Linked DNA regions of Homo sapiens. The protein of the gene in region 1 purifies or fractionates together with the protein of each later gene. This does not show direct contact. Each region holds a gene or a part of one and is shown on either strand. Other genes may lie near its edges.

The links. The genes of interacting proteins can lie anywhere in the genome.
Region 2: the proteins of TULP3 (region 1) and TTC21B purify together in Homo sapiens (affinity purification with mass spectrometry; 6 studies listed by BioGRID and IntAct, with this or other methods). This does not show direct contact.

Annotation. Positions count from the first base shown.
Region 1 is NC_000012.12:2,917,823-2,922,697, reverse strand, and holds part of TULP3 (tubby-related protein 3), read right to left. Parts: intron 1,936-4,875; coding exon 1,776-1,935; intron 437-1,775; coding exon 296-436; intron 1-295. UniProt on the Homo sapiens protein: Negative regulator of the Shh signaling transduction pathway: recruited to primary cilia via association with the IFT complex A (IFT-A) and is required for recruitment of G protein-coupled receptor GPR161 to cilia, a promoter of PKA-dependent basal repression machinery in Shh signaling.
Region 2 is NC_000002.12:165,946,733-165,951,607, forward strand, and holds part of TTC21B (tetratricopeptide repeat protein 21B), read right to left. Parts: intron 2,993-4,875; coding exon 2,863-2,992; intron 2,773-2,862; coding exon 2,662-2,772; intron 1,590-2,661; exon of another isoform or gene 1,303-1,589; intron 1,194-1,302; exon of another isoform or gene 1,156-1,193; intron 610-1,155; exon of another isoform or gene 465-609; intron 1-464. UniProt on the Homo sapiens protein: Component of the IFT complex A (IFT-A), a complex required for retrograde ciliary transport and entry into cilia of G protein-coupled receptors (GPCRs). Essential for retrograde trafficking of IFT-1, IFT-B and GPCRs.

The sequences.
Region 1 (4,875 bases):
AGAGGGTGGGAACTGAAAATAGTCAAAAAGAAACAAACAGTCATCTATGGCCATCTATGGCAGCTAGTATTTTATATTTAATTATCTTCTTTTTCTCAGGCAACAGTATAAATACTACCATTGCTGACAATTACCAACATTCAGATGTAAAAGATGCTAAACACTGTCACCTCTGTGAGGCCCTAAGCCATGAGTCATTTTCAGTCATGTAGATTGTTACCCACAATGAAAAGAAAGGAAAAGATTACAATTGAGTAAGGAGACAAATTGCCTTAAAATCATTACCAGTCCTCACCATGCTTTTGGAGACGCTCCTGAAGTCCTGGCTTGGAAGCAGTATCCACGGTGTTTTCAGCATCTTCTTCCACAACAGAGGAGCTTACTGATGGAGCATGAACTTCGTCTGGTTTCAGGACAGCAGCTGGACCATCAATACCTAAGGGCCAAAATAAAATGAATTTTAAAAAAGGAGCAAAGTATTATTCACTAGTTGGGTAGATTTGGCATATGTGATCAGAATTAAGAACTACCAAATCATTTTATCTGCCCTCCTTTCTTAACATCCATAAGAACATTTGTTAAGAGAGAAGGTCAGAACTGGTGTTCTTTTTTTCTGAGACAGGATCTCACTCTGTCACCCAGGCTGGAGAGCAGTGGTGTAATCACAGCTCACTGTAGCCTCGACTTCCTAGGCTCAAACGATCCTCCCACTTCAGTCCCCCGAGTAGCTGGGACTACAGGTGTGTGCTACTACACCTGGCTAATTGTTAATTTTTTTGTAGAGATGGAGTCTTGTTATGTTGCCCAGGCTAGTCTCAAACACCTGGCCTTAAGTGATCTGCCTTTCTGGCCTCCCAAAGTGCTGGGATCACAGGTATAAGCCACCACGCCCAGCCTGGTGTTCATTTTATTAACATGCTCTGTTACTAAAGTCATATGTACTTGTACTTCAGTAACTGAAGTAATATGTACTTCAGAAACTTAAGAATGAGACCAAGAAAACAAAGTAGGTCCTCCATAGTACAGATCCTGTACAAGCCAATAGCTCCAGTGGCTTGATTTAGAGGCACTTACAATCTTATTCTTCCTCCGCCCCTCCCCATCTCAGATGATCCTTTCAACTATCTGTTGGAAGAATGGACGCTCTCTACCTATTCCCGGCTTCATGATTCACCTCTGCCACGATTTAACAATCAAGAGCTCCTCAAATAGGTCATTCTAAACTCATTCATCTGGCATCTAGAAAACAACAGTTCTTGCCGGGCATGGTGGCTCAAGCCTGTAATCCCAGCACTTTGGGAGGCCAAGGCGGGTGGATCACCTGGGTCAGGAGTTCGAGACAAGCCTGGCCAACATAGTAAAACCCCGTCTCTACTAAAAGTATAAAAAAATTAGCCGGGCATGGTGGCAGGCGCCTGTAAACCCAGCTACTCGGGAAGTTGAGGCAGGAGAATCACTTGAACCTGGGAGGAGGAGGTTGGCAGTGAGCCAAGATCGCGCCATTGCACTCCAGCCTGGGCGACAAAAGCAAAACTCCGTCTCAAAAAAAAGAAAACAACAGTTCTAAAATGGACGCAAACCTTAAGGCATCTTCCACTGATTATATCATTGCTTTTATTCTCCTCAAAGACCCCAAATGTGATTATAAAGATTTATGAAGGTACCTAGTAATGGTGCTAATAATATTGTCCCTTTGGTCCGTCTGACAATCCTCGTGCCTTCTAGGTTTGTGAAAATTGTACCCCACTAGGAAGTGATGCTGCCTAAATACACACCATGTAAGATGACATTGCTGTGGGGAGTATGACAGTTCACCAAGGGAGTCTGCTCATCACTGGCCCTTGGCTTTGCCCGACGTAGCCTGGCTTCTGGATTGGGCTGCACCATAAATGGCTCAAGGCGCTTTTTCCTTTGCCTCTTCTCAAGTAGTAGCCTCTGGGAAAAAAGCGATATGACAGCCAGCAAGGAGAGTTTTGACATGACCTAACCATTTCCAACATGCCCAGTTTGTTTTTCACTGATCCTCACAAAACATCTTGTAAATTATTTTTTCCCCATTTAAGAAATGGGAAAACTGAGGCACAGAGAGGAGTAAGGATTCAATCATTTCATTTAACAAATACTTTTGAACACCTAACACCTATAAAGATCTATTTAAAATCAGATGATGCTTTTTTTTTTCTTTTTTTTGAGACAGAGTCTCACTCAGTTGCCCAGGCTGAGTGCAGTGGCACCATCACAGCTCACTGCAGCCTTGACCTCCAAGGCACGCCCAATCCTTCTGCCTCAGCCTCCTGAAGAGCTGGGACTACAGGTGTGTGCTACCATGCCCAGCTATTTTTTGTATTTTTGTAGAGACAGGGTTTCCCGACATTGCCCAGGCTGGTCTCAAACTCCTGAGCTCAAGCAGTCTGCTTGCCTTGGCCTCCCAAAGTGTTGGGATTACAGGCGTGAGCCACTGCACCTGTCCCACACAGTGCATTTGTAACCAAGTCTACTAAAGATGTATGGGAATCATCATAGCATTATCAAATGTGACCACAAGCTCAAAACATACAAACACACATGCACGGAGGACAGATGGAGGAACACAGCAAGGGTGGTTTCTTCAGGTGGCAGACTATGGCATGATTGTTTTCTCTTTTCTAGTCTTTTTTTTTTTTTAAGTTTTCTTACTTTTGTAAATGGAAGAAAAAAACTTTATTATTCTCTAAAACTCAAATTATTTCCATGTTCTAATTAGTCAAAGGGCAGTAAGTTTGGCATTCTTGTTTATCTTATATAATTAGAAATCAAATTTGGATCAAGGGTGAGAAGAAAAAAATGGCAGTTGGAACATATCAAATAGAAAGCAGTCAACTCTATGAATAAAAGCAAGATAAAGACTATGGTAGCAAGAAAAGTCAGGAAACAAGCATGACAGACTATGAGAAAAAAAAACCAATGAAATGGAAAGGAAGGTACTAGCACATAGTACTAGTACCTTTTGGCAAATAAGGGTTTATAATATATAGAAATTATTATTGATCTGGGATAACTCAGAGTAGGAAAAATGTTAAGCCCCATGCTAAAAAATAAAGACATGATTAAAAAACAAATATATTATAACCCACTTACTACTGTTTTTCAGGCAAAAGAAGCCATCTGTTTACTTTTTTCCATCGATACTGTTTTAGAAAAGTGCCTCCAGGAAGAAGAGTCACTCCAAGGGGTGAGACTATCAAAAAAGGAAGTGTGTTTTTCCTGAACTGGGCTGATGAGAGCACACTGATTAATTCAATAGCTTGCATATAGAGGGAAAAGATTGGGGAGTTAAGATAACGTGCCAATACAGAATATACCATCAAGAATGAATAGGTGTTAGAGCAAGGACTAAGTTGTTTGGAGATTATTTTGAGATTTCATGAATTACCATGAATAGAAGGACATTAACCCAGGAACACTAAATACACAGGAGGCTATAATGACTTCCACCAAACAGAATTGGCCACTGAGATTCTTCTAGCAGCCGGGCGCAGTGGCTCACGCCTGTAATCCCAACACTTTGGGAGGCAGAGTCAGGTGGATCACTTGAGGTCAGGAGTTTGAGACCACCCTGGCCAACATGGTGAAACCCCGTCTCTATGAAAAATACAAAAATTGGCCTGCGTCATGGCGCATGCCTGTAATCCCAGCTACTCAGGAGGCTGAGGCAGGAGAATCACTTGAACCCAGGAGGTAGAGGTTGTGGTGAGCTGAGATCATGCCACTACACTCCAGCCTGGGTGACAGAGCAAGACTCGAGACTCTGTCTCAAAAAAAAAAAAAATTCTTCTAGCAACCAAGAGGTCTTGTATAATGGATAAAAAGTAACTTGCTGGCCGGGCACAGTGGCTCATGCCTGTAATCCCAGCACTTTGGGAGGCTGAGGCGGACGGATCACCTGAGGTCGGGAGTTCAAAGCCAGCCTGACCAACATGGAGAAACCCCGTCTCTACTAAAAACACAAAAATTAGCCGGATGTGGCGGCGCATGCCTGTAATCCCAGCTACTCGGAGGCTGAGGCGGGAGAATCGCTTGAGCCTGGGAGGCGGAGGTTGCGGCGAGCTGAGATTATGCCCCTGCACTCCAGCCTGTGCAACAACAGCAAAACTCCATTTCAAAAAAAAAAGTAACTTGCCTGAAAAGGTGGTAAATATGAAGTACTGAAATCATAAGAAACTGCCATATCTTATCTATGTGGCCACAGCTATTTCATCTCATACATAGTCTGTGAAATGATCGATGAAACAAAATCACATACTGTAGGCTGGGCGCGGTGGCTCACGCCTGTAATCCCAGCAGTTTGGGAGGTCGAGGTGGGCGGATTACCTGAGGTCAGGAGTTTGAGACCAGCCGGGCCAACATGGTGAAACCCCGTCTCTATTAAAAAATAAAATTAGCCAGGCGTGGTGGCAAGCGCCTGTAATCCCGGCTACTTGGGAGGCTGAGGCAGGAGAATCACTTGAACCTGGGAGGCAGAGGTTGCCGTGAGCCGAGATTGGACCACTACACTCCAGCCTGGGCGACAGAGCGAGACTGTCTCAAAACAAAAACAAAAACAAAAATGAATGCTGTAGCTATTTTTTGAGACGGAGTTTCACTCTTGCTGCCCAGGCTGGAGTGCAATGGTGCAACCTCAACTCACTTGCAATCTCTGCCTCCTGGGTTCAAGCAATTCTCCTGACTCAGCCTCCGGAGTAGCTAGGATAACAGGCACCTGCCACCACACCCAGCTAATTTTTTTTGTATTTTTAGTAGAGATGGGGTTCACATGCAAGGAAAATATTTTCTTTTTTTTTTGAGACAGAGTCTTGCACTGTCACACAGGCTGGAGTGCAGTGGCGCGATCTCGGC
Region 2 (4,875 bases), on another chromosome or scaffold:
AGGCTGAGGCAGGGAGAATTGCTTGAACCCAGGAGGCAGAGGTTGCAGTGAGCCTAGATTGCACCACTGCACTCCAGCCTGGGCAACAGAGGAGGTATATGGTTAAGGATCACTGTAATGCACAATATAGCTATAGAGTTTACATCATTCCCAAAATAGAAAGGCTGTATATACTAATATTTTTTAATAATAAGACTTATAAAAATGTATAATGGTTCTAACCACAATTATTAGGAACAGGTCCAGTACTGGTACTCAACGTATTAATAATTCTTAAATACAATTCTAAAATATATAAACATGCCAGCTACTGTTATGGGTCAGTAAAAAGATGGCATAATTGCTGTTATAGTTTAATACTGACTGCTCCCTTAAATAGATAACTCTATTCACTTACATTAAGTCTATACACTCTCTCTCTCTCTCTCCCCTCCCCCATATATATATATATATATATATATTAGTATCTGCTTAGGACACAGAAGTCAATTACACCCAAACCCTGGATGGAATCAGAATCAGAATCAGCCATGCAATGAGGAAGAAGAAATGTAAGTTGCGGCCTGTGATTCCAACAGTTCTCTTTCTGGAATGGCTACCAAGAGAAAGGTATGTGACTCTTCCTTTCAACTCTAATGATACAAATTTAAATGTGAAATTAACAAGGTACAATCTAATGAGTGAAGGAAACAAAACTGTTTCTGTAAGTCTACAGATTGCTTAGCAAGAAGACCCTTTTCTCCTCTCCCCACTCCCCACCCCTACAACCCCTTCAGAAGTGTTCATTAAACAGCCATGATACAGAAACAGAAATAAGAAAACAAACAAACAAAAAAAACAACCACCAGGCAGAAGCAGGCATTGTACAGGAAATCTTTCCTACTCAGATTTCCATCACGTCCCTAATGAGGTATCAATCAGCTCTAACACCGTCTGCACAAAGTTGTTGAAAGATCGCAGCCTTTTTATAAGCAGGGTTTATTTACATCAGCATCCTGGAAGGAATGTATACTAACAATCTAGGACTTTCCTAGGCAGTATTTACAGACATCTGGGCCCCTACTAGAGCTCAAGTCCATTCAGCATCATCCTTGGTGCAAAGCAGAGTTAGCACTCAGGTTCCTCTGAACAGTATTTCTGATTCTGTCATTTCAGTGTCCTGCAAATCACAGTGTCCAACAGAATCAACACTGGTAAGAATAACCAATTAAATAAAAACTTGATTCTAATAATAAATTATTTTGTACTAATTTCTTCAATCTATACTAACTACAGCTCTCCCATGAAAATTTTCTGCTCTAGCTAAACACACTCCCACTGGAGTACGGAGAAAGGGGATCCACAGAAGAGCCTAATCCTGAACCACTTCCATGTATTTGCCCATCCATTTCTCCTCTCTGGCCAATACTCTTCATATTCAAATTCTACCAGTCCTTCAAAGATCAGATTAAGTTCCAAAATTTCAAAAGCCTTCTCAGCCTACTCTTACAGCTGAATAGTGCATACCAACTTCAATTAATTATAAACTCATGTTTCATTTTGTATTATTTAATAGAAACATTGGAATTTAATCTTTGTGTTTTTTACATTTTGTTTTCTCCACTAGATTACCAACTTGATGACATGAACCACTTATTAGAATTCTTTTGTAGCTTGTAACTGTATTAGGCACAGTTTCTTGAAGAAATTAAGCACATATTTACATGTTTTAAATAACTTTGTATTGATTTGCATATGTATGAAGGAGGTATGTCATACTTGGCTTTAGAAAAAAGTCTCGTCTAATATTCAAGGAACCAGTCTGTGACCTTTGTTTATTATGTAATTTTTTGAAACACAATCTATATTTACAATCCTATTAGCTGTTACTGGATATATATTTATGGAAGAATATAACACTACTTCTTCTTTATTACATACAATTTGGATACTCTTCTGCCTTCGCCATTAACTATACATTAAGACAGTTCACATAACTTTATTTTTTATTTTCTGTTTTTTTTTAGAGATGGAGGTCTAACTATGTTGCCCAGGCTGGCCTCGAACTCCTGGGCTCAAGTAATCCTTCACCTCAGTCTCTCAAGTTGCAGGGATTACTGGCTTGAGCCACTGTGCCTGGCAGTTTACACAACTTTAATTGCTGGTTTATGTATAAATTTCCTTCTATAATCTAGTCAGAATCTAGTCAACCTACTACTGCATAAAAATTTGCTGAATATCTCCCAAGAGCTAGCCCTCATAAAGGGTTTTAAGGCTCTCAATAAGCTTAATATACAGAAATAAACTGCATTGGCTGTATATTTGCACAAAAGTTGTAAACTTGGCTGCTGCAGAGCAATTTATGTACATACGGTACCTGTTTCTTTGGCTGTCCTTTTTTTGTGTAACAATTACTAATATACATTCCCTTTTATCTAAAAAAATCCCTATGTACTAATGAAACCTCTGCCAGAGGATATAAGGAACACGAAAATAGTATAAGACACATTTCTTGTGCCTGATGAATTTACACCCTTGTCAGGAAGATAAACATATGTATAAATTGTACCTACAGAAAATACATAATATAGTGTGATCAGACTGAATGACTTGGTAACTGAGAAAAATAAAAATAAACTGAATAGGAAAAAATGTCCTAAGCATTGCATTTAAATATCATACCTGGATTAGGACTCATTTTATGGGCATATATCAGTGCAAGTAGAGAACAAAGTGATACATCTTGTTTATTTTTAATAGCCTCAAATTCTCGAAGAGCTTCTTGAGTTTTACCTGAAAATCAAGATTATGATATGAAAAACTGTTCTTAGTGCAAAGCAAGAATTTAAAACTGATGGAACATGTTTAATGATTAACACGTACCTTCCATTAATGTGCCATAGGCATGATAAAACCTGAAGACTGGATCACTTCCATACCTCTTAATTCCTTCACTGGCAACCAGTAATACATGATGGAAATATCTCTCTTGACAATAGTAATTAATCAAAGTCTAAATGGAAATAATGAAAAAATGTTATAAAGGAATTCTGGTGCTCTGAAATACTCTAAGAAGCAGATAATAATCTAACATCTAGAATAATGTAAAATTCAGGCAATGTGACTTTTTTCTTCCAAGTTTCTTAAAATACTATTAATGGCTAGAACTCAATGCTAAGGATTGCAGAACTGAATGATCATAAAATTACTGAAATAATTCAATGTTTTCTAATAATTTAAATTATTTTTCCTAAGTTTTTGTTAACAGCACCGAAATGAGGCTGCTTTCACCTTTTTTCCTTTGCCCACATTTTCTTGAACGTTTTAGAAAACAGAAAGGCAGACAATAAACAGGAACTAAAAAAAAAAAAAAAAAGACAAGAGGCTTCCATTGCCAGACCATAGGTTTCTTTAAAAAAAAAAATCTTCTTTTTAAAATATCCAGTATTTTATTACAGCATTACAAAGTAATGACAAATTTAATTCTTCAACATATCATCAAATGTTATCTTACTCGGCTTTGAGTTCTGCGACAAATAAATTGTCAGTTAAGAATAAATAAACTATTTTTCAATGAAAATCGTTGTCTTTAAGCTTTTTCCAAAGTTATATTATTTCCATATACAAGACAAAACTACTATCAGGACCTACTAACTTCTGAATAAAAATGGGCCTGTGCTGTCTACCATTTTTCCTACGATTATGTCTAAGGCTTGGTTGCTAACCTCATCAAAGACAGAAACCACACTTTCCCACCATCACTAGGATACACCTGATTCACCAGAAAGCAGTTTGGGCCACCCCATACCTACCTACCTGGACTCTACAGCTTGTTCAGTAGCAGTGAGAAATACAGGTGACTAAGTGACAGGATTGAAATCTAAGGGTATCTAGACAGCTCTGGTTTGTTTGTTTTGTTTTGTTTTGGAGATTCTGTCACTCAGGCTGGAGTGCAGTGGCGCAATCTCTGCTCACTGCAATCTCTGCCCCCTAGGTTTAAGCGATTCTCCTGCCTCAGCCTCCTGATCTGGGACTATAGGCACACCCCACCGCACCTGGCTAATTTTTGTATTTTTAAGTAGAGATGGGGCTCCCCATGTTGGCCAGGCTGGTCTTGAACTCTTGACTTCAAGTGATCCACCCGCCTGGGCCTCCCAAAGTGCTGAGATTACAGGCGTGAGCCACCACGCCCGTCCGACAGCTCTGTTTTATATAGTCTCTTGCTTCTGGAGGGCTATAGTCCATGTACTTCTCTAGATCAGTTAGGCGACTGTTCTCTGTAATTTTACTCTGCCTCCCTCCTTGTGATCACTGCTCCCTAACCTCCTTTTTAGCCATGTTTCTTAAAAGTGTGCTCCATACCCCATCTCCAGACCCCCACAACACATTTCAGTGAAACACAGTTTTCCTCCAATGCTCCATTCCCTAAAGTTGCAGAATGACTTCTTACTTTGCCACAACTAAGGACACGTTTAATACCTTACTTGACTTCTGCACACTATCACTAAGCATCTATAATCCTCCTGAAAGGCAGTGGCATAGCACCATAAAAAGGACGCGAATTTAAAGGCAAAAAGAATCTCTGGTCCTTCTTACAACGCCTCAGTCTGCTCATTTATAAAATGCTGTTAGTAATGCAAATGTACAGGTCACTGTGAGAATTAATTAAGATATCATAGTATAAGAGTTCTATTCTGAAAAAAATAAGTTCCTCTGCATCCCATATGTTAATGGAATAAAAAAAAAATGTGTCCTGCGCCAAGACCTCTTGTCTATGTTCCAGATTCATATTTCCATTTTCCACCTGCTACCCTGCTACTCATGAATCCTCCCTTCCTATTTGCCCAGTCTCTCTAAGTCTAACCACTTAGTAGGTTCTTCTATTTCTCCAGTCTA